3 linked regions of the Homo sapiens genome follow. The protein of the gene in region 1 purifies or fractionates together with the protein of each later gene. This does not show direct contact. Each region holds a gene or a part of one and is shown in the gene's direction. Other genes may lie near its edges. The genes, in order: PRIMPOL, ECI2 and ABHD18.

Region 1 (8,275 bases):
TACCAAAAAATCATTATTACATGGTGATCATAACACCTTGTATTATGTCTCCATAATCTATTCTGTTTTTTAACCGTGGAATATATCATACATACAAAAGTATAGATAACACACTTTTTTTTATTTTCTGAGATGGAATCTCACTCCGTTGCCCAGGCTGGAGTGCAGTGGCATGATCTCAGCTCACTGCAACCTCCGCTTCCTTGATTCAAGTGATTCTCCTGCCTTAGCCTCTCAAGTAGCTGGGATTACAAGTGTGTACTACCATGCCCGGTTAATTTTTGTAATTTTAGTAGAGACGGAGTTTCACTATGTTGGCTGGGCTGGTCTCAAACTCCTGACCTCAAGTGATCTGCCCGCCTTGGCCTCCCAAAGTGCTGGGATTACAGGTGTGAGCCACCGCACCCAGCCGATAACACACTTGTATACGCACATTTTAAAGACTAAAGTGACCACCTGTTGTATCTGCCGCCCACCTTAACAACCAGAAGCTGATCAAACCTCAGAAGCACCTGTGGGCCCAACCCCAATTTCCTTCTCTCCCTGGCCCTCAGAGATGGTAGCCAGTATCCCGATTTTGTGTTCATCTTTTCCTCGCTTTTATGATTTCTCCCATATACGTTCATATCTCTAAACAATATACTGTTTTCTTTTTCTTTTCTTTTGTTTTTTGAGACAGAGTTTTGCTCTTGTCGCCCAGGCTGGGGTGCAATCGCACGATCTCGGCTCACTGCAACCTCTGTCTCCCGGGTTCAAGCAATTCTCCGGCCTCAGCCTCCCGAGTAGCTGGGATTACAGGCATGCGCCACCATGCCCAGCTAATTTTTTGTATTTTTAGTAGAGACGGGGTTTCTGCATGTTGGTCTGGCTGGTCTCGAACTCCCGACCTCAGGTGATCTGCCTGCCTTGGCTTCCCAAAGTGCTGGGATTACAGGCATGAGCCACCGTGCCCGGCCATAAACAATATAGTGTTTTCTTTTGCTTGTTTTCGAATCGCATCCTCTCCCTTGCCTTGCGGTAGCATATCTGTGATTTTCACCCACGTTGCAGTATGTAGCTGTTGCTTATTTGTGTCACTATTGTGCAGCATGCCATGTGTATAAATATAAATAGGCCACAGTTTATCTGTTTTCCCACAGTGGACATTTGGGTTGCTATTATAAACCGTGAAGGTGGGAACCGTGTTGTACATATCACCTAGTATACATGTGCTAGAGTTTCTCAAAGTGGACTTGCTGTGTCGTGGAATATGCACATAATTAATTTTACTAGATCATAAATTGTTTTCCCAAATGGGTGTGCCAGTTTATAGTCCTGCCAGCAGTGTTTTGAGATTTTTCTACTGTTCCATATTCTCACCAACACTTTAGTATTGTTAGGATTAAAAAATTGGTTTTGCTCATCTGGCAGATGTAAAACAATATTGTAGTTTTCTTGGGAATTTCCCTGATTACTAATGAAGTTGAGGATGGATAATCAAATTACATCCACACAGATCAGAAATCTTGCCCAGTGTCAAGCTTTACTAATAATGTAGGAATACAAGGAATGAAAAGGCACAAATGGGGCAGAGTGAGGCCCGGGGCATCTGGCCCGGCTCCCCTGGCCCTTCCTGCTCTTTCTGACTCAGGAGGAAACCCGAGGCAGGCGTGAGCAATCCATGCACACAGCAGGAAGCACCGAGGTTGTGAATCACCTGCATTTTACACTCAAGTTGCACAGCTGGGTGACATTTCCGGAAAGCATGCCTCATAATGCATTGATTCTAGACTTTTTACCAAATGCAGTTCTAAAGTCAGAAACGTCCTACGAAGAGCATTCTGTAGGTAAGGACTGAACTCCTAGCGTTTGGTCCAGACGTTCCCCGATTTTCTTGGTTCATGGTTCCCCTGGTGTCTTTGTTTCTTCACATTTTCTCTGAGGCTGACAGAAATACCCGAGCTCTGGTAATGAATTTCAAACAACTTGGTAAGTGTTTATGTCCGAACAGTTTAGTAGCAGTTTGAATAATAGTATCCATAAACTAAAAAAAAAAGCCACTTTTCATTCTTAAATACAATTACTTATTAATGGGATGTATACTCTCCATTTTTTCATTTTTTTGAGACAGGGTCTCGCCCTGTCGCCCAGGCTTGAGTGCAGTGTGATGGCCCAGGCTTGAGGACAGAGTGCAGGAGCTCACTGCAGCCTTGATCTCCTGGGCTTGAGCGATCTTCCTGCTTCAGCCTCTCACGTAGTTTAGACTACAGGTGTGCCACCATGGCTGGTTAATTTTTAAATTTTTTGTAGGTGGGATCTCCCTCTCTTGCCCAGGTTGGCCTTGAACTCCAGCCTTCAAGCTATCCTCCCACCTCAGCCTCCCAAAATGCTGGAATTACAGGTGTGAACCACCTCACCAGGCCTATGTATGCACTCTTAAACCCTGGAATCAGATTAGACCCCACCCTCCCCAACTCATACCTTGTTCTCCATTGATGTTAATGGTGCTTTTTTTTTTTTTTTTTTTTTTTTGAGATGGAGTCTTGCTCTGTCACCCAGGCTGAAGTGCAGTGGTGCAATCTCGGCTCACTGCAACCTCTGCCTCCTGGCTTCAAGCAATTCTCCTGCCTCAGCCCCCCGAGTAGCTGGGATTACAGGTGCCCACCGCCACGCCTGGCTAATTTTTGTTGTATTTTTATTAGAGATGCGGTTTCACCATGTTGGCCAGGCTGGTCTCGAACTCCTGACCTTGTGATCCACCCACCTCGGCCTCCCAAAGTGCTGGGATTACAGGCGCGAGCCACCATGCCCGGCCTGATGTTAATGGTGCTTTCTATTACAACCACACCCCAAAGCCCAGCTCTACAAAGATGGAGCATGAATGAAAGGAATGAAGTCACATGTGAACTGCAGGCAAGGAGTTTTCAGATTGCTCAAGAAATGTCAAGTATCACTGTGTTTTCTAGCAGTATTTCAATATCCTGCAGTGCCCGGGGCACCTTCCTGTACAGTTTGGGAGCCACAGCATTATTAGCTCATTAATTGGGAGGCCTGTTACTAGAATGTTTAAGGGAAGATTAGACTAAGTCACCTGCCTTTTTTTGCTCCTGGGTGCAGGTCCCTTACCACCTCCCCATCCCACACCTCACCTACTGCCATGGGGAGTGTTAACCATCTTATTTCCTTTTCTGTAAAATGTGGGAACATTTTCAACTATTTAATCAAATCTTTAAGAATTTTAGTGATTATAGGATTGTTTAGGTTTTCTGTTGCTTTTTAAGTTTGCTTAGTTTATTTTTATGTAGTACTTTATTTTACAAAAACTTTCAAAGTTACTGGCAAAAGTTGTTCACAATATTGTTTTCTTAAAAACATATGATGCATTTAATTTCTAATAACATTTGTGTCTTTGCCTTATTTTTAAATCAATTTTACCCTAATTTCATTTTCTTCAAATGTAGGCCTCGTTGATTCTTTTTACTTTTGTCTCTTTATGACTGCCTGCCTTTTATTTATTTATTTACTTATTTATTTATTTAGAGACAGAGTCTCACACTGTCACCCGGGCTGGAGAGCAGTGGCACCAGCTTGGCTCACTGCAACCTCCGCCTCCCAGGTTCAAGTGATTCTCCTGCCTCAGCCTCCCAAGTAGCTGGGATTACAGGTGCCCCCCACCACGCCCAGCTAATTTTTGTATTTTCAGTATAGACGGGGTTTCACTATGTTGGCCAGGCTGGTCTCTTTATTCAGTTCGTTGTTTTCCACGTTAGTCACTTAATCCATGTATCTTTAGCTATTCTTCTTTCATAACACAAGATTTTAAGACTATAAATTACCCTCTAAAGGTGACTTTAGCTGCATTTCACATATTTTAATATGTACACTTCCAGTCCACTCAGGTCTAAGCGTTTTCTAATTTCCACTATTTTTCCTTGAACCATTGGTTGTTTCAAGTTGTTCTTAATTTCCAAATTATGGATTTCTATTAGTTTTATTTCTAAAATTTGCTTTATGCTCAGATGTGTTCTGTATGAAGTGATGATTTTAAATTTGATAAAATTCACTTTATAGCTAGCATGGAATTGGTTTTATAAAGAACTGCTTCATATTTACCTATTAGATCAAACTTCTTAATTGCTTTTTGTCATTCATTTTTTCTGTATCCTTATTGGACCTTTTTTGTGGTTATCCTTTGATCTATAAATTACTGAGAGTATGTTTTTTAAAAACCTTGATTTATGGTAGATTTGTTTATCATTGTGGTCCTGTCCATTTTTGCTCACATATTTTGCAGCTGTATTATTTGGTGAGTACAGGTTGAGAATTGTTACATCTTCCTGGGGGAACTTTCATCAGTATCTACTTTTTGCCCTGCAGTTCATTTTGTGTGATTTTTGGCAACCACCGTTTTGATTGGTATGTATCTATCCTTATCCTTTTACTTTTTAATTTTTCTCCATCTTTAAGTCTTAGGCATATTTCTTGGAACAGCATGCAGCTGGATTTTGTTTTCTACCCAGTCTTGGTATTAATACTTTTTTTTTTTTTTTAAACATAAAGGATTCTGGTTGATCTGAAAAATGAAGTTTGGTATCAAAAATGTCATGACCCTGTATGTAAAGCAGAAAACTTCAAATCTGACTGTAAGTTACTAATTTTTACATTTACCACAAAGTAAAAATTAGATAACTGTAATATGTAATAGTTTTGCTATCTTTCTGATTCAGGTTTCCCATTACCTGCTGAAGTATGTCTCCTGTTTCTTTTCAAAGAGGTAAGTACAGATTTTAGTGTCTTTCTCCTTACCAGGGAGTTCTTGGTACAATAGTATACCTGAGCCATGAGTAGTGTCCAAATAGCATTGAAACCCATTTGCTACCTTGTTTTCACTTATGACTGTATTATAGGAATATATTGTAGTGATTTTCCCATTTCAGCACATATCTGATAATACAAACCTTTTTTTTTTTTTTTTACTGCTGCTTGAGGTGTACAGTTTAATCAGTCCCAGACATTTAAGAAGTTTCCCATATTTTGCTTTTCAAAGTAACAAAATACCCATCTTTGTATTTCTTTGAACATCTGTATCTGTAGGATGAATTTCTAGAAGTAGAATTGTGTCAAAGGGCATATTCAGTTTTAATTTTGGTAGGTATTACCAGGTTGTCAAACCAACATTTTTCTCTTAAAGATTTTTTATTTACCCAAATAATTAACGTGCATTGTAGAATGAATTGAAAATACATAAAATTAGGTCAGGCACAGTGGCTCAGGCCTGTAATCCCAGCACTTTGAGAGGCTGAGGCAGGCAGATCACTTGAGGTCATGAGTTTGAGACCGGCCTGGCCAACATGGAGAAACCCCATCTCTACTAAAAACACAAAAATTAGCCAGGTGTGGTGGCCTATGCCTATAATCCCAGCTACTCAGGAGGCTGAGGCAGGAGAATCCCTTGAACCTGGGAGGTGGAGGTTGCAGTGAGCTGATATCACGCCATTACACTCCAGCCTGGGAGACAGAGCGACTCTGCCTCAAAAAAAAAAAAAAAAAAAAAAGAAAGAAAATACATAAAATTAGGAAATACACAAGAAGCAAAGAGGAAAGAATCTTCCTTACTCATTTGACCAGAAATAAATGATACACGTTTTGGCACGTACCTTCGAGAATTTATGTATGCTCATTTTCTTTTTTTTTGAAGTGATAGCACACATACTATTTCAGTTTTTTTTCTAAAGTATCACAAATATTTTTAGTACCTATTATCAAATTGCTCTCCATAAAAAGTATAGGATATTAGACCTCCACAGATAATTTATGAGAGCACCTATTACCTCACACTTTGCCAGCAGTGCTTGTTTACCTCGAATCACTACCAATCTGGTAGGCAAAATGCAGTACCTCAGTTGTTTTAATTTGCATCTCTGTAATGAACTTTTTTCGGATTCACTATTAGTATTTCTATAATGAAGTGCCTGTACCTGTCCTCTGTCCATTTTTCTGTAACTTTTTTGCAGTAATTAAGTACTGTTTTTGACGTATTTCACTTTTAAATTGTAGTTTGTGTTTTGTTTTTTGTCACATCTGTCAGCTTTCTCCTCTATAGTGTTAATAGAATAAAAGAAGTTACCTGCTACAAGCAGAACAGGTGATGGGGTTTATATTCTAGAAAACTCAGTCTTAACACGTCTCTCGAAAAAACTCCATATGTTTGAAATGGTGGAAATTCCATTCTTGGTCTGCAAGAACTGGACATAAAATAACTGATAGCCAGATTCTCTGGCAAAATACCAGGTTAAAATGTGTTTTGAAATAACCAAGAACAAAGTAAATTTTAAAAAATAAACTGTCTCCAAGAGGAGGAGGATTGCATCGCCCTTGTTAGTCTGGATTGTGATTTAGATATTCGTGGTTGCAGTGGATTTTTAAGCTACTTTTTCCGCTTATCTAGTAACACCTCAAAAATGCCAAGTTGAAAGTACCATTGGTCAGTATTACCACTACTTGGACATAACTTTTTAAAGTAAGATATATAATGAACACCCATGTAGCTGTCACTTAGTTTTCAGTTAACATTTTGCCTCTCCTGCTTCATCTTGTTTTTTAAAACAAATATTTTAAATTACCAGTTGGTGTTATTTATACCTGCTTTTCTATTGCACTGATATTTCATTGGTCACTTGATTTTAAATTTACTATAAAGGCCTAACCTACAGAAATGTACAAGAATAAGGAACTCTGCTGTCTGTCCTCTATTGAGATCTGCCATTTGTTAACACTTGGCCACATTGGTTTTCTCCCTCTACTGTATACATACGCATTATTTTTGATGACTCTCTTAAACTGCAGACATCAAAACCCTTCATCTAATATTTAAGCACGTAGCGGAAAGAATAAGACATTCTGTAGCTTTTTTAATGACAGGGGGGTATCATGTTGCCCGGGCTGGTCTCAAACTCCTGGCCTCAAGCAGTCCTCCCGTCTCAGCCTCCCCAGTAGCTGGGATTACAGGCACGTGCCACTGCACTGAATAAGGACATTCTTTACATAAATAATGTATTGGGCGGATCAACTAAATGTCTATACTGAAGACATTCTATGGTAAAATAATTGATACAATACTATTATGTAATATACAATCCAGTCATATTTTGGCAACTGTTTTTAATCTTTTTTCAATCCATGTTTACGATTTGCTAAATACTTTAAAATTTAAAGCATGGGTACTAAGTCCATTGTCAAGATAGCAAATTTATCTTCTGATTTGTCTTCAGCTGGACTGTCCACTTGTTAAAAAATTAAATCCACCCTTGCTCTTCCGTCGGGGAGTATTGAAAAGTATGTGCACAGAACTGTAGGTAATTTCAAATTTGGAGTTTCAAGTGTGTCTGAGCTTCAGTGCAGCAACGTTTGAATCAGTGCACTCATTCCCACGGTGAGATATCGGAGACAGCATTCCTCCTGCATATTCACTTTAGTATCTGTCACTTAATACCTTACTTCAACATAGAGTATAAGGTTAAATCACATATCCTGAGTAAATATTTTCCTATCCCACTCTCTATCCCTTCACCACTGAAATAAAGGAAGAAGAGTTTACAACAGATGAAGCAGATGAAACTAGGAGCAATGAAACCCAGAATCCTCATAAACCATCACCTAGCAGGCTGTCAACAGGTGCATCTGCTGATGCTGTCTGGGATAATGGCATTGATGATGCTTATTTTTTAGAAGCTACTGAAGATGCTGAATTAGCTGAAGCTGCAGAGAACAGTCTTCTCAGTTATAACAGTGAAGTGGATGAAATTCCTGATGAACTAATTATAGAAGTATTACAAGAGTAACTAATTCACTATGAACACTTTTGTCACCAGGCTATAATTTGCCTGATGTCTGTGAGATTTGATAAATATATCATTCAACCTGTTTATATAAACTAAGTTTTATTACTTTGCTTTCCAATTTTTGTTTTTTACTTCTGTAAACCAATTTCATTAAAAATTAGCTTTGGTGTAAATTCAGGAGAAATCGCCTTATTAATTAATCAAAATTATGTTCACATCAACTTAATTTTACAAGTTTATTATAGCTCATACCTGGGACCGATTAAGGTGTCAACATTTTAAAATTACTCAAGATATTAACCAGAAAAGATGATTATGGCCTTTAAAACTATTGGACAAACTGATGCTATTTAACATTGTTCACAGCCATTTAATTTGAATAACAAATTTTAGATTCTAAGTAGGCCATAACTTCTTTGCAAAACAATTGATTTATAAAGGTACAGTTTCAGAAG
Region 2 (8,275 bases), on another chromosome or scaffold:
GTCAGTGCAGTTAATTGTGACTTTGGACAAGCATATTTCTCTAAACTGCCTCCATCCATAGGTGGGCATTCATTCTTTCTCTTTGACCTCTGTTACCTGTTCATCCTGCTGGTCTCATGAGATTTGACTGGAAAACATAAAAGTGAGCTATAGTTGTAAACAAAATTATCTTGCACTGAGGCAGAGGAATTTAGCAAATTCTCATCCAGCCAGAGGAATGGGAGATTTCCATGAACGCTGAAGGTAGGAGACTCGGAGGAGTCTTGTAAACACAGGAGGAGGTCATGAAGGCTTTTCTCTTTATTCCTGCCAAATCTGTAATTCCCACTTGTTGTGATATTGCAGCATGTGCTCAGTCACCCAACCTAATCTCTAAGACTGCGGCTGGTTTACAGCCCTGAACTCACTGTCCAGAATACAAGATTCAAACCAGGGTTGACCCATAGGTCTCACTGGTTGGTCTTCCATCCACTGCCATTCAGACGGATGCCCTGGATGAATCTGGTGCGGAAGACCAGGGAAGTGGCAGGACAAGGAGGCACTGCTGGTGGTGGCTGTGGAAACACCCAGCCTGACAGAAGGCTTTATCTCAGAGTCAGACTGTCTTGCCCATGCTTTAGTCATGCTGCTTTGGCACATTTAATGATTTTGTGTTTCCATTTCTGTAGGGAATTTGTGGGCTGTTTTATAGATTTTCCTAAGCCTCTGATTGCAGTGGTCAATGGTCCAGCTGTGGGCATCTCCGTCACCCTCCTTGGGCTATTCGATGCCGTGTATGCATCTGACAGGGTAAGTCAGCTCCTAGAAAGCAAGAGGTCAGGCAAGCAGCGCGAGATGAGAGCCTTTGAATCCTCCTTCAGCGTTGCCAGTCATAAGCAGGTTACATGTTGTTTGTGGTAGAATTAACTGAATTTAGATTTTTCCCAAAGCATTAGGCTGATTTGACTGATTTTATTTTTCCTTCATTATTAACTTGCATTTTGTTGTGAACATTGTTCCAACTCTGACTGTTCCGGATTCTAATCAAATTCCACAATAGGTATACAGCTTTCATGTTATTCTGAAAGATTCAGGAGACACTTGAAAATTTGTTATGGGAGGGAGGAATAGCATCTTTGCAGGTTGTGCAAGGGATTAGTTGATCCTTTTTACTGAGTAAATGGATTTAGAATTTTAGAAGGAGAAGGACCTGTGAGCATTATCTACTGTCACTCCCTCCTTTGCAGATAAGAAAACTGAAGCTCTGAGAAGTTCCTTGCCCAGAACACAATTCAGCCTTGTGTTCACCATTGCATTATACAGATTTTAGTTTTTATTTTTACTACAGTAGTAATATATATGTCATAGTGGAAAATAAAATTTTGAAAGATATGAAAAAGTACCAAGAAAAGCTACAAGGTAAAAATCACTCCTTATCTTGCCACCTAGAGATAACCAGTCCTAACGTTTGGGTTATTAACTTATCTTGTTTAACCAGTCCCTGACTGCTGGAACCCTAGGCTGTTTCCAATTTTTATCATTACAAGCACCTAATAACCACCTTTAGGGTATCAGATTGTCCAGTGACTTATGCTTATGTGATGGTAAACTGTGCTGATGATTGCAGCCTTCTAGGGAGCATATGGTTTTTACCACTGAAGAGATTTCTAGTTTTGTTCAGAGGTATTTTCCCCACTGATAGACAGGACCATATAATAGCATCCTTAATTCTTCGAATTTTCTTTTGCTGGATTCCATTGAACCAGATTGGATGTATTGACAGACCTAATTCTTATGAATAATTTTCCCACAAAATTAGCAAATGAGATTCTAGGTGCCAGGCTGCCCAGCCTTTGTAGGTAGAGGTTTCTGTTCAAAGGCAGAAATCAATGTCTTTGTTCACAGTCTGTGTATTAGATGACTGATTAGTCATTGACCTGCTTTTAACAGGGACTGGGTCAATGGTTCCTGACCTAAAATTGGGGATCTCATTCTTTAATACTTGGAGGGCAAATATTGTATTTGAATCTTGTTCTGATTCTCCCACTGAATTGAAAATTACTTTCAATATACATCATCCTTATTTTTTTTTTTTTAAGAGATGGGAGTCTCACTCTGTCACCCAAGCTGGAATGCAGTGGCACGATCTTGGCTCACTGCAGCCACCACCTCCCGGGTTCAAGCGATTCTCCCACTCAGCCTCCTGAGTAGTACAGGTGCGTGCCACCACATCGAGCTAATTTTTTTGTATTTTTAGTAGAGACAGGGTTTCACTGTGTCGGCCAGGCTGGTCTCGAACTCCTGACCTCAAGTGATTCGCCTGCGTTGGCCTCCTGAAGTGCTGGGAGTACAGGTGTGAGCCACTGAGCCTGGCCTGCATCAACCTTTTAAAAATGTTGATGACTTCCATCTTATGATATAAATTGTAATAAATGTTGAAATCAGAAAACATATATACATAATACATATAAAACATATCTATTCTATATATATTATAATATATGTATATTGCATATATATATTAAATGCTAAAAAATTTGGCCAAAAGTAAAATTTATTTGTCAAATAGTGTCTTCTGATAAAAGTTTACCCAACCAAACAAATCAAGCATCATTTAAAATAAAGGAAATTGAGGTGGGCAGATCACCTGAGGTCAGGAGTTCAAGACCAGCCTGGCCAACATGGTGAAACACCATCTCTACTAAAAATATAAAAATTAGCCGGGCTTGGTGGCGGGTGTCTGTAATCCCAGCTACATTGGAGGCTGAGGCAGGAGAATTGCTTGAACCCAGGAGGTAGAGGTTGCAGTGAGCCGAGATCGTACCACTGCACTCCAGCCTAGGTGACAGAGCGAGACTCTGTCTCAAAAAAATATATAAGTAAAAAATAAATAAAATAAAGGAAATATGCTAAAGGAAAAGGCTGTAGAAAAAATTGTTTTATAAGATTTACCATTATTGGCTTCAAGAATAAATATCATATTAAATGATGGGTTAATATTTAACCCATATAACCAAAATATTAATCAGTACATTTAATCTATTTTATACTGTGGGCAATGGTTAATAATGCCTATTAGCTCTGTCAGCAAATGATACATTTCCTGTATGAGTTAAGAAAAAGGTAGAAATCATAACAATAATAAATCTTTGAGTGGTCACTGTTTAGGCACTCTATTCACATGCATTATGTATATTATAAATATACGCATACACACACACATATTCACGTAATGTACAGAGTAGCCCGATGAAAGAAGGACTTGGCCAGGCACAGTGGCTCACGCCTCTAATCCTGGCACTTTGGGAGGCCAGGGCAAGTGGATCACCTGAGGTCGGGAGTTCAAGACCAGCCTGGCCAATGTGGTGAAACCCCTTCTCTACTAAAAATACAAAAATTAGCCAGGTGTGGTGGCAGGCGCCTGTAGTCCCAGCTACTTGGTAGGCTGAGGCAAGAGTAAGGCTGGGCAACAGAGTGAGACCCTGTCTATAAAAACAAACATTCTCCTCCAATGTGGCAAAAATAAGTTTTACAATCTAGGCTGGGCATGGTGGCTCATGCCTGTAATCTTAGCACTTTGGGAGGCCAAGGCAGGTGGATCACTTGAGGTCAGGAATTCGAGACCAGCCTGGCCAACATGGTGAAGCCCCGTCTCTACTAAAAATACAAAAATGAGCTGGGTGTGGTGGTGCACGCCTATAATCCCAACTGCTCGGGAGGCTGAGGCAGGAGAATCGCTTGAACCCGGGAGGCGGAGGTTGCAGCGAGTTGAGATTGCGCCACTGCACTCAAGGCTGGGCAACCGAGCAAGACTCCGTCTCAAAAAAAAAAAAAAGCAAAGAAGGATTGGTTCCCATTTTACAAATGAGAAAACTGTGGTACAGAGAGGGTAAGAAACTTTCCCAACGTCCCTAAGTAGTCTGACGCCAGAGCCTAAACCCTTAACTCCACCTGCTGCTCTCTTTCTGAAAATCAGCATTTTAAATGCTGCTTACTGGCAACTTTGCATGTACCTGTTTGTGTCCCTTTAGCTGTTGTTGGCAGGTTTCTCAGTTTCCTGCTTGTATTCCTTAGGCTGTGTCTTCTGGGTACATTTTTTTGAATAAGTTTTCTTTTGGATAAAAAAAGAAGATACATGACATTAACAGAAACTTTTAAAAATATTGTGATTATTTTTATGTATATGCTGCATATGTTATAGATTTATATCTTCTAACAGTTATATAGTAAAAACAACAGCGTGTCTGATTATAGGAAATGAAATCTAAATATTCTTTTACATATTATGAATTTTAAATTAACATTCTTTCATAATTTATTCATTAAGAAACACAAAAATATGTCTTAAATGTAAAAAAAAAAAAAACTAAAAATGACTATATACTAAATAACCAATATTGAATTAATTCCAGTAGTTAAAGCCAACCAAAAAAACCACTGGGGCAAAATCAAGACAAATGACAGATTGAGGAAACAATTTTTCAACTCATGTAACAAAAGCTGATCTCTCCACGATACTTTTTAAAGTTTGTCTATAAAGCGATAGATCCACAAGCTAAAATAAAAATGGGCAATGGTGAGGAATGAATAGGTCAGACAAAATGAAATATAAAGGGCTATTAAAACCATATGAGAGAAACCACTGAGAAAATGAAAAGATAAGCCATAGACCAGGAGAAAAGATTTGCCTGACGCTCTAATAAAAGACTTGCAATCTGAATGTGTATCTTACAACTATATAATAGGAAGGTAAACAGCCTAACTTAAAAAAATAGTGGAGAAAATATCTTAACAGTTGCTTCACCAAAGAAAATATACGTATGTCTAATAAGTACATGGTAAGAGACTTAATACCATTAATGGTTAGGGACATGTAAATTAAAACCACAGTGAGACCCCACTACATACATACTAGCATGGTTAAAATGAAAAAGACTTAATAGCTAGGTTTAGTGAGGATGTGGAGCAATTGGAACTTTCATACATTGCTGGTGGGAATGTCAAATGGTACAACCACTCTAGAAAACAGTCTAGCAGCTTCTGAGCTAAATATACATTTACCACACAGACCAGCCATACCACTTAGGTATTTACCTATGATAATTTAAAAGAGATTCACCCAGTGACCTGTACACAAGTGTTCCTAACTGCCTTTTTGTTAACATTATCTGAACATTTTTATTTTTAAATTTTTTTTCAGTTTCATTGAGGTATACTTGACAAATAAGAATTGTACAGTCAGGTGCTGCATAACAACATTTTAGTCAATGGCAGACTGCATGTAAAACGCTGGTCTCCTAAGATTATAACACCATATCTTACTATACCTTTTCTTTTTTTTTTTTCACTCTGTCATCCAGGCTGGAGTACAGTGGCATGATCTCGGCTCACTGCAGCCTCCTCCTCCCGGGTTCAAGCAATTCTTGTGCCTCAGCCTCCCGAGTAGCTGGGACTCCAGGTGCACACCACCACACCAGGCTAATTTTTGTATTTTTAGTAGAGATGGGGTTTCACTACGTTGGCCAGGCTGGTCTCGAACTGCTGACCTCAGGTGATTTGCCCACCTCTGCCTCCCAAAGTGTTGGGATTACAGGCATGAGCCACCACACCCGGCCTACCTTTTCTATGTTTGATATATTTAGATACACAAATGCCATTTGTTATAACTGCCTAGAGTATTAAGTATAGTAACATGCTGTCCAAGTTGGTAGCCTGGAAGCAGTAGGGATTACCACATAGCTAGGTGTGCAGTAGGCTGTGGCATCCAAGTATATGTAAGTATACTCCATGATATTGGCACAATGACAAAATTGCCTAATTATGCATTTCTCAGAACATATCCCCATTGTTAAGCAACACACGACTAGATATATTTAAGGTGTTCAACTTGTTTTTCATAGCAGCCTTCTTCATAGTAGCCTTTCATACGTTGCTAGTGGCAGTGTCAAATGGTACAACCATTTGAATGCTAGAAACAACACCAATGGCATTAACTGGTGAATGATAAACATATTATTGTGCATCCATACAAAGGAATACTACTCAGAAATAGCGAGGAACAAACTACTAATACATACAACAGCATGGTGACTCTCAGAAGTCAGACTCAAAATGCTACAGAATGTAGGATTCCACTTATACAGCATTCTATAAAAGTCAAAACTGTAGGGACAGAAAACAGATTAGCAGTTGCTTGGGGGTGGGAGGGAGGGACTGACTACAGAAGGGCCCCCGGAACCTTTCAGGGTGGCTGAAATGTTCCGCATGTCAGTAGTGGTGGTGGCTATGTAACTCTCTATTTGTTCAAACTCATCCAACTATACACTTTTAAAGGGTGAATTGTGTGTGCATATTAACCACATAATCTTAATTTTTAAATAAATATTATTAAGTATTGTGAAGTTATAAGCAAATCGTGATTTTTAAAAATAACACATGAAGCCAGGCATGGTGGCTCACGCCTGTGATCCTAGCACTTTGGGAGGCCGAGGCAGGTGGATCACCTGAGGTAAGAAGTTTGAAACCAACCTGGCCAACAGGGCGAAACCCCGTCTCTACGAAAAATACAAAAATTAGCCAGGCATGGCAGCGCATGCCTGTAATCGTAGCTGCTGTGGAGGCTGAGGCAGGAGAATCGCTTGAACCCAAGGGGTGGAGGTTGCAGTGAGCCGAGATCGCGCCACTTCACTGCAGCCTGGGCAAAAGAGCGAAACCCTTTGTCTCAAAAAAAAAAAAAAAAATCACACATGAAAAGATGGTTTTCTTTTCTCTCCTGCCTCTGCAGGCAACATTTCATACACCATTTAGTCACCTAGGCCAAAGTCCGGAAGGATGCTCCTCTTACACTTTTCCGAAGATAATGAGCCCAGCCAAGGTAACTTTTGGAATGTTTAAATATAAAATTTTATGAGTCATCTCAAGAAAGAAGGAAGAGTAATCTCATATACTCTCCCTTCTTTCCCTTGGTAATATGGACAAAAGAGAAGCTAATGATTTGCTTTTCAACTCTTTAAGAGTTTTACCAATGGAGGAATCAGGCTATGGGAAGTATCTGCTATGCAGGAAAATTAGAAATTCTCTCTGCAGTTCCCAGAACTGGGATCCTCCTCTTCAGCTGGCTGCTTAGTGCTAGCTGCACTGCAAGCAGCACAGCACCTCAGCCTTGCAGCTGTGTGGCATTAGTCACTTGAAGGACCAGGGCTGTGCCAGCCTCCCTTGGTCCCCTGAGTTTGGAGGCCACTCGGTTCCTTTATGGATGACCAGTATCTCCTAAGGAGAGACATGATGACGTCTTCACTTTCAGAGTTACAGTAAGTACCAACAGATGGGAGGTTTTGTGGGGGCTCACGGCTGCCAGAGCCACCCCCAATCACAGCAGCCCTTCCATCAGCCTGCTCACGGGTGTATTCTCTCCCAGGCTGGTTAAGTGGCTGCTCAGGTCTTTCACTGTGTTTCCTAGTTGCCCACGCCCTGTGGCATGACTCGAAGGGGATTGTGACAAGACCAGAAGCTGAGCTATAGGAAAAGGCTTAGCAAATATTGCTGCAAGATCTCAAAGTGGGGCAGTGGGAATTGAGCTTGTTTTCATTGCCTATTAGGATTTTGTTAAAAACTTATATATGTATGTTTTTACTCTCATTAGGCTATCACATACCCTGAATTGAACTTGGGAAGGGGGCAGAACTGACTCTACAAGTCTTAGAGCATTTGGCTATTAGAGCATTCCTTGGCTGGGTGCAGTGGCTCACACCTGTAATCCCAGCACTTTGGGAGGCCAAGGCTGGTGGATCACTTGAGATCAGGAGTTCAAGACCAGCCGGGCCAACATAGTGAAATGCTGTCTCTACTAAAAATACAAAAATTAGCCGGGGCATGGTGGCGGGCACCTGTAATCCCAGCTACTCAAGAGGCTGAGGCAGGAGAATCATTTGAACCCAGGAGGTGGAGGTTACAGTGAGCCAAGATCGTGCCTCTGCACTCCAGCCTGGGCAGCACAGTGAGACTCTGTCTCAAAAAAAAGAAGAGCATTCCTTTTCTGGAAAAGAAATTGCAAATGGAGAGAGGATATCCACTTAATGTCCTCAGTTTTTTCGGAAGCTAACTATAAGTCTTTGCTTTCCTTTAGTCAAATAGAACTAATTTGAGTACCAATGCAGGTAAAGAAAACTCTCAGAGCCAGATCACTGGGTAGTTTCCAGAGAATGGAATTTTGAAAGTTTCTAAAGGTTGACCCAATGACCGTAATTTTTCTCTCCTTTTTTCCTCTGTAAAATAATAGTTTATAGTGTATCAAATG
Region 3 (8,275 bases), about 57 Mb from region 1:
ATATTAATGGCCAGGTATTTTAGGATGTGAGAAGGAAGATCATGGCTTGTTAAAGTTGCTTTGGTGCATCAAGAGTTTTTTCACTCTATTCTGATGTTTTTTCAGAATGGCCTGAACATCTGTGGAATAATTTAGCAATGTTTTTCAGTTAGCAAGTGAATATTGAACCTTAAATAAGAAGTGCTTTTAATGTGAACAACCTTATATGACTCCACTATTTTAGTTAGAACTTATAAAAACTTTTATGCTGGCTGGGCGCGGTGGCTTACGCCTGTAATCCCAGCACTTTGGGAGGCGGAGGCGGGTGTATCACGAGGTCAGGAGATCAAGGCCATCCTGGCTAACACGGTGAAACCCCGTCTCTAGTAAAAATACAAAAAAAAAAAAAAAAAAGTAGCCGGGCATAGGTGGTGCATGTCTGTAGTCCCAGCTACTTGGGAAGCTGAGGCAGGAGAATGGCATAAAACCCGGGAGGCGGAGCTTGCAGTGAGCCGAGATCACGCCACTGCACTTCAGCCTGGGAGACAGAGCGAGACTCCGTCTCAAAAAAAAAAATTTTTTTATGCTAAAACTATAATTTTCTGGTATTCTGCATTATTGAAACATATTCCTCATGTTATTATTAATGATTAAGTAAATTGATTCACATAAATGGTTAGATCAGTGCCCTGTACATAAGTGTTAAAAAAAACTTCCAACTGGATAGCTATATAATAGAAGAATTGTATGTGATATGTTTGACATGTTTTAGCTCTTGTTAACGGAGGAAATAATTTTTCTATGTTGTTACTTATCTAGCCCAACTTATAAATGTCACCCTTTTTAGAAATAAACCAATTGTTCAAGTCTCTCATGTCTTGAAGGATATAGTAAACCTTTCTTTTTATAGTATGATCTTTTAAGAAGTATTCATGCAGCATTTGAGTCCCTATTGGTGAGTGAGCAGACTATCCAATACTCATTGGCCCTCTGGCACAACAAAATTAAAACAAATAAACAAAAATCCGTGACTACCTAGGGTTGCTAGGATTGCTTAAGAAGAGTCTAAAGTTCTGTTATACATGTGAACGCAGAGGACCCACATGCTTGCATTAGTAAATTAGTATCAAATTTCTTTCACTCTTTTGTGTATCTAAGTGGGAGTATAGCTAAGACGTATTAGGAAGAGTAGATTTATAATCAAAGTCAAATATAAAAACACAAAAGTGCTATTATGAAGGCTTCATTTGAGAGAGATAAATGTTAACTATTATCATGTGCCAGATGCTAGGGCAATTGCTCTGTTATTATCCCCTTTACACAGAATAAAGGGAACAAAAAAGATTAAGTAACTTGCTCAAGTGGAGTCACTACTAAGCTATTTGACCTCTTCCATTCCCCATCAGTCACTTCAAAACTTAACAGAGGTTAGATGACATTGGAATAGTAGAATTTTTAAAAATTCAGTCTTTTCACACACCAAACATAAAAATAAAAGAAGCCGCCAGGTGCGGTGGCTCACATCTGTAATCCCAGCACTTCAGGAGGCCAAGGCGGGTGGATCATGACATCAGGAGTTCGAGCCCAGCCTGGCCAATATGGTAAAACCCCGTCTCTACTAAAAATACAAAAATTAGCTGGGCGTGGTGGGCACGCACCTATAGTCCCAGCTACTCAGGAGGCTGAGGCAGGAGAACCGCTTGAACCTGGGAGGTGGAGGTTGCAGTGAGCTATCGCACCACTGCATTCCCCCTGGAGGCAGAGGTTGCAGTGAGCTGAGATCGCACCACTACATTCCAGCCTGGGTGACAGTGAGACTCTGTCTCAAAAAATGAATGAATGAATAAATAAAGCCATTCCTTTATGTGCTCTAATATTTTGTGTTATTTAGAGCTTATTGATAATACAGGTGAATAAGAGACTATTCACATGATTAAAAAGGGACATACATTACATGTACACAAGCCCGTATTGTAACTTTTGGCACCAGGAAGTAAACAAATTCAGATTCATTCCACAAGAGCAAGTGCCTGGAACTAACTCTGAGGAAAAAAATTATCCAGTGGGTGGGCCGGGCGTGGTGGCTCACGCCTGTAATCCCAGCACTTTGGGAGGCCGAGGCGGGTGGATCACGAGGCCAGGAGATCAAGACCATCCTGGCTAACATGGTGAAACCCTGTCTCTACTAAAAATAGAAAAAAATTAGCTGGGCGTGGTGGCGGGTGCCTGTAGTCCCAGCTACTGCAGAGGCTGAGGCAGGAGAATGGTGTGAACCCAGAGGTCAGAGCTTGCAGTGAGCCGAGATCGCACCACTGCACTCCAGCCTGGGTGACAGAGTGAGACTCTGTCTCAAAAAAAAAATTATCCAGTGGGCAATAATTTCAAAGCCCTCTTTACTTCTTCCCTATTGCTGTCATATCTGTCTTCAAAACAAAATCTCTTTATGTGTTTACACCAACATGCAAATATCCACCTCTAATTTTTTTCCCTTCTTATGGTTCATTATAATTCACAGGGAACAAGTACTTGAGCCAAAGAAAGACAAGCATGTTGTAAAACTATGACTTCCCAACATATTGGAAATAATAATCTATTAGCAGGCTATCAGTTTCAAAGATAGTCTTTTTTTTTTTTTTTTTTTTGTCTTTTTTGAGACAGAGTCTCCCTCTGTCACTCAGGCTGGAGTGCGGTGGCATGATCTTGGCTCACTGCAACCTCCACCTCCTGGGTTCACGGCATTCTCATGCCTCAGCCTCTGCAGTAGCTGGGACTACAGGCGCCCGCCACCACGCCCGGCTAATTTTTTTCTATTTTTAGTAGAGACGGGGTTTCACCATGTTAGCCAGGATGGTCTCGATCTCCTGACCTCGTGATCCGCCTGTCTCGGCCTCCCAAAGTTCTGGGATTACAGGCGTGAGCCACCGCACCCGGCTAAAGACAGTCTTAATAGCTGTGTTTGGATGTGAGGATATGGTTAGTTGAACAAGTGGGATACAAAATTAATATCTGATAGTTATTTAAACTGGGTGAAAATATAGACATGCATTTTCTTTTTTCTTTTTTTTTTTTTTTTTTGAGCTGGAGTCTTGCTTGTCACCTAGGCTGGAGTGCAGTGGCGCGATCTTGGCTCACTGCATCCTCCGCCTCCCAGGTTCAAGCAATTCTCCTGCCTCAGCCTCTCGAGTAGCTGGGATTACAGGCACCCACCACCACACCCGGCTAATGTTTGTATTCTTAGTAGAGATGGGGTTTCACCATGTTGGCCAGGCTGGTCTCGAACTCCTGACCTTGTGATCCGCCCTCCTTGGCCTTCCAAAGTGCTGGGATTACAGGCGTAAGCCACCGCGCCTGGCCTAGACATGCATTTTCTTAAAAGCCTGGAGGAAAGATATGAAAAGGTTAACAGTAGATGTGAGTGATGGGATTATGATGTTTTCCCCTTCCTATGTTTTGGATTTTCTGAATATTCTGCTATAAAAATGTATTATACAATAGGAAAAAAACAGCTTTAGAAAAAAATATGAGTGGGGCAGGGTGTCGCAGGACTGTAGTTCCAGATACTCAACAGGCTGAGGTGGGAAGATAGCTTGAGGCCAAGAGTTTGAGGCTGCAGCGTGCTATGATTGCACCTGAGAGTAACCACTGCACTCAAGCCTAGGCAACATAGTGAGATCTTGTCTCTAAAAAAAAAGAAAAAAGAAAAGAAAAAATATCTTATGGAAGATAAAATTTGTCTATTCCTTTTCTTTTTCTTTCTTTTTTTTTTGAAACAGAGTTTCGCTCTTGTTGCCCAGGTTGGAGTGCAATGGTGTGATCTCAGCTCACACAACCTCTGCCTCCCAGGTTCAAGCAATTCTCCTGCCTCAGCCTCCCGAGTAGCTGGGATTATAGGCATGTGCCACCACACCCGGCTAATTTTTTGTAATTTTAGTAGAGACGGGGTTTCTCCATGTTGATCAGGCTGGTCTCAAACTCCCGACTTCAGGTGATCCGCCTGCCTCGGCCTCCCAAAGTGCTGGGATTACAGGCTTGAGCCATCGCGCCCGGCCTGTCTATTCCTTTTCAATTGAAATATTAAAATACTTGGTAAAGTTAATGTGAGAAACCAAGGCTTTTGATTTTAAGTAGCTAGGAACATGTTCATAGTAAATGAAAAACATCTATATCATAATCTGTGAAACAGAATCTTACATTCTGAAAAGTTACATAATTAATTTTCAACGAAGCGATAAGACAATAAATCAGTTCCTTTTTCTTTCATAATTTATTTTATACACATTACACACATGTGCCTCTGTGTGCGTGCGTGTATGTATGAATATATATATTCTAAGGCACAAAAAGTGCTTCAGAAAAAGATAATGCTTTTAGATCCCTCATAAATTGGAAGTATATTTGAGGTTTTCCGGTAGTGGTGGTAAAGTTGCATGCATCTGAGGCAGGCGGATCACTTGAGGCCAGGAGTTCGAGACCAGCCTAGCCAACATGGTGATACCCCGTCTCTACTAAAAATACAAAAAATTAGCAGGGTGAGGTGGTGCATGCCTGTAATTCTAGCTACTTGGGAGGCTGAGGCATGAGAATCACTTGAACCGGGAGGCAGAGGTTGCAGTGAGCAGAGATCATGCCACTGCAGTCCAGCCTGGGCGACAGAGCGAGACCCTGTCTCAAAAGAAAAAAAAAAGTTACATGGATTCAAACACCCATTCTGGGGAGGGTAACTGCCTATTTCATAGCTATTTAGAGAGGATGTCAAGTTGCAAGCCACAGATAAATTTGGAAATAACTTACAGTAAAGGCATTGTTTGTCCCCCCTTTTTGTTAGTTACTTAGAGTTTTTCTTTCATATTTAATTTTAGACAAGCCATCTATGATGCATTTGACCGCTTCCTCCATAAATACGCTAACTAGTTGGATTATTATATGTAACCAGTGTGGCCATGATGTTTCTTACAAAAGGGAGCTTCATCCTGTGATCATGTGAAGGACAAGCAGACAGCACTAATATATCTAATCGCTATCAATTTGGTCTGGAATTCATTGTTACACATCAGTTAACTATAAACTTCGAATACATTTGAATAATTTCAAGATAATATTTGAAGTAAATAATGTTAAAGTGTTTTTACTATTGTTTATTGGAATCCCATATATTCAGTGTTTAGTCTGTTGTTACTGTTTATGAAAAACTAAATTTTTAATCATGAATAATTTATTAAATTAAATAAATTTATTCATAGAAACTTTTCTGGGTTTTAGTAAAATTGCTAAATCAAACCAAGATTTTAATATATCAGCATTTACTTTGTACCCTTATAACATTTCACTCTTGACTTGATTTGAGAAACATGTTTATTTTTTGAATGTTCTTGTGTTCAACTAATTTTCTGCTGTGGAAATAAATACTTATGATATATAAAATCAGTGTTAACTTTGAATTCTAAAATATCCTGATAGCTTCATAGATAAGTGCTTTTCTTTTTCTTTTTTTTTTCTTTTAACATGTACCTCTACTTGAATGTAAGTGCTTTTAATAATCAAAGTGAGTGGCAGGGTGCGGTGGCTCACGCCTGTAATCCCAGCACTGGGATGCTGAAGCGGGCAGATTACCTGAGGTTGGGAGTTCAAGACCAGCCTGACCAATATAGAGAAACCCCCTCTCTACTACAAATACAAAAAATTAGCCAAGCATGGTGGCGCATGCCTATAATCCCAGATACTCAGGAGGCAGAGGCAGGAGAATCGCTTGAACCCGGGAGGCAGAGGTTGCGGTGATCCGAGATCACACCATTGCACTCCAGCCTGGGCAACAAGAGTGAAACTCCGTCTCAAAATAATAATAATAACCAAAATGAGTGTTCTGCAGATAAAATGCATTAGACTTTGCTAGACTAAAACTTTACTAAAGATTAGGGTTTTTAAAAAATGCCAATAGGCCGGGTGCAGTGGCTCATGCCTGTAATCCCAGCACTTTGGGACGCTCAGGCGGGCGGATCACAAGGTCAGGAGTTTAAGACCAGCCTGGCCAACATGGTGAAACCCCATGTCTACTAAAAGTACAAAAAAATTAGCCGGGCATTGTGGCGTGTGCCTGTAATCCCAGCTACTCAGGAGGCTGAGGCAGGAGAATTGGTTGAACCAAGGAGGCGGAGGTTGCACTGAGCTGAGATTGCGCCACTGCACTCCAGCCTGGGCAACAGAGCAAAACTCCATCTCAAAAAAAAAAAAAAAAAAAAAAAAAAATTAAGCCGGGCATGGTGGCAGGCACCTGTAATCCCAGCTACTCGGGAGGCTGAGGCAGGAGAATTGCTTGAACCCGGGAGGCAGAAGTTGCAGTGAGCGGAGATCGCACCACTGCACTCCAGCCTAGGAGAAGGAGCAAGACTCTGTCTCAAAACAAAACAAAATGCCAAACTTATTTCTCCCTACTAAAAAGTTTCAATTCACAAAAATGGAAACATTGGAAGACCTGTTGCATTAACTGACGGAGTGCAGTGGCATGATCTTGGCTCACTGCGACCTCCGCCTCTCAGGTTCAAGCGGTTCTCCTGCCTCCACCTGAGTAGCTGAGATTACAGGTGCCCGCCACCATGCCTGGCTAATTTTTGTATTTTTAATAGACACGAGGTTTCACCATGTTGGCCAAGCTGGTCTCGAATTCCTGACCTCAAGTGATATGCCTGCCTTGGCCTCCCAAAGTGCTGGGATTATAGGTTTGAGCCACCACACCCGACCTGACATTTTATTTTTATTTTTTTAATTACATTTTTCTATATGCTTATTCTTTGGATTGCTAACCATCTAACTACCCAAATACTTAACAGCCTTGGCTTTTAATTTCAAAATTTAATAGACACATATGCAATTGATTTGTCCCATATAAACTTTATTTTACAGAAAATATTTAAAGTTTTATGTAATAGCTATTAACTCTCTTAAATGGGGTTTATATGGCTCGATTTGGTGCTTTCTTTTTATGTTAAACTTCTCTAGCTGTCAGCTAAAATGTTAAAAAAGTCGAAAATATTTTAGGGTATTGTGTGAAGTTTTACAGTAGGTATTTTTGAGTTTTGTTTGAAATCTGTGTTGTCTGTGAATTATTTTTAAATAGGGATTCTTAGTCTACTAACGATATTTGAATTATAATGTGCCTTTGCAGTCTTTTTAAAGGAGATTTCATTTGTCACCTCTATGCCTCTATCATCTTAATTTTTTACAAATATTTAAAAATTATTAATGTGAAGTTATTGATGGTAGACAAAGTAGTAACTTCTTTCAAACTACTTTGGCATAACAAGCCAACACTGTACAGCTCTTTGAGCTATAAGCAATTTTACATGTTCAGATGAGAACCTTTAGTTTTAACCAAAAGTATAACATCTACTAAAGTTCTTCCACAAAATACTTTTTAAAATAAAACTTGTCAACTGAATTACGATTTTCTTATATTATGTATATAGTGAGGTTATATGATTGAATGCTTTTTGAACAATGGTTTTAGTAAAACAAATACTTTATTATTGTTCACATAAACATTTCTTACTAAGCAATAATGTACTATGTTGTGTGAATTTCTATTGTTAAAAAAATGAAATGTTGATTTAGTTTTAATTCTTAGGCATAACTAACTTTTCTCAAATAAAGTGTGAAAGAAAGTATTTTTAAAATTTCATCTCTTAACCAGATGTTTTAAGAATATATCCCTAGGCCGGGTGCAGTGGCTCACACCTGTAATCCCAGCACTTTGGGAGGCCGAGGTGGGGGGACCACCTGAGGTTGGGAGTTCGAGACTAGCCTGACCAATATGGAGAAACCCCATCTCTATTAAAAATACAAAATTTTTAAAAAAAATACAAAATTAGCCAGGCGTGGTGGCACATGCCTGTAATCCCAGCTACTCAGGAGGCTGAGCCAGGAGAATCGCTTGAACCCGGGAGACGGAGGTTGCAGTAAGCCGAGATTGTGCCATTGCACTCCAGCCTGGGCAACAAGAGCAAAACTCTGTCTCAAAAAATATATATATATCCCTAAAACTACCTCAGTTGAAGAATTCAAAGTGCAAAATAACTTTTCTTAGGATTTTTTAATCTATTCCCCCCAAAATGGTGGCTTAAGTGTTCTCAAATACATAAATATACACATATACGTATATGTATACGTTTTATATATATATACACACACACGTATGTGTGTATATATATGTATGTACGTATATATATGTATTATATATACACACATATGCATATATATATATATATATATATATATATATATATATATATAATCTCAAAGAAGT

Evidence for each region.
Region 2: the proteins of PRIMPOL (region 1) and ECI2 purify together in Homo sapiens (affinity purification with mass spectrometry; 2 studies listed by BioGRID and IntAct, with this or other methods). This does not show direct contact.
Region 3: the proteins of PRIMPOL (region 1) and ABHD18 purify together in Homo sapiens (affinity purification with mass spectrometry; 2 studies listed by BioGRID and IntAct, with this or other methods). This does not show direct contact.

What each region holds. Positions count from the first base shown.
Region 1 is NC_000004.12:184,686,960-184,695,234, forward strand, and holds the end of PRIMPOL (DNA-directed primase/polymerase protein), read left to right. Parts: intron 1-4,356; coding exon of another isoform or gene 4,357-4,395; intron 4,396-4,539; coding exon 4,540-4,622; intron 4,623-4,706; coding exon 4,707-4,753; intron 4,754-7,125; exon of another isoform or gene 7,126-7,250; coding exon of another isoform or gene 7,251-7,334; exon of another isoform or gene 7,335-7,562; coding exon 7,563-7,820; 3' UTR 7,821-7,993; downstream 7,994-8,275. UniProt on the Homo sapiens protein: DNA primase and DNA polymerase required to tolerate replication-stalling lesions by bypassing them.
Region 2 is NC_000006.12:4,117,764-4,126,038, reverse strand, and holds part of ECI2 (enoyl-CoA delta isomerase 2), read left to right. Parts: exon of another isoform or gene 1-668; coding exon 669-789; exon of another isoform or gene 790-1,079; intron 1,080-3,992; exon of another isoform or gene 3,993-4,090; intron 4,091-6,763; coding exon 6,764-6,853; intron 6,854-8,275. UniProt on the Homo sapiens protein: Able to isomerize both 3-cis and 3-trans double bonds into the 2-trans form in a range of enoyl-CoA species. Has a preference for 3-trans substrates.
Region 3 is NC_000004.12:128,030,924-128,039,198, forward strand, and holds part of ABHD18 (protein ABHD18), read left to right. Parts: exon of another isoform or gene 1-853; intron 854-4,838; coding exon 4,839-4,890; 3' UTR 4,891-8,275.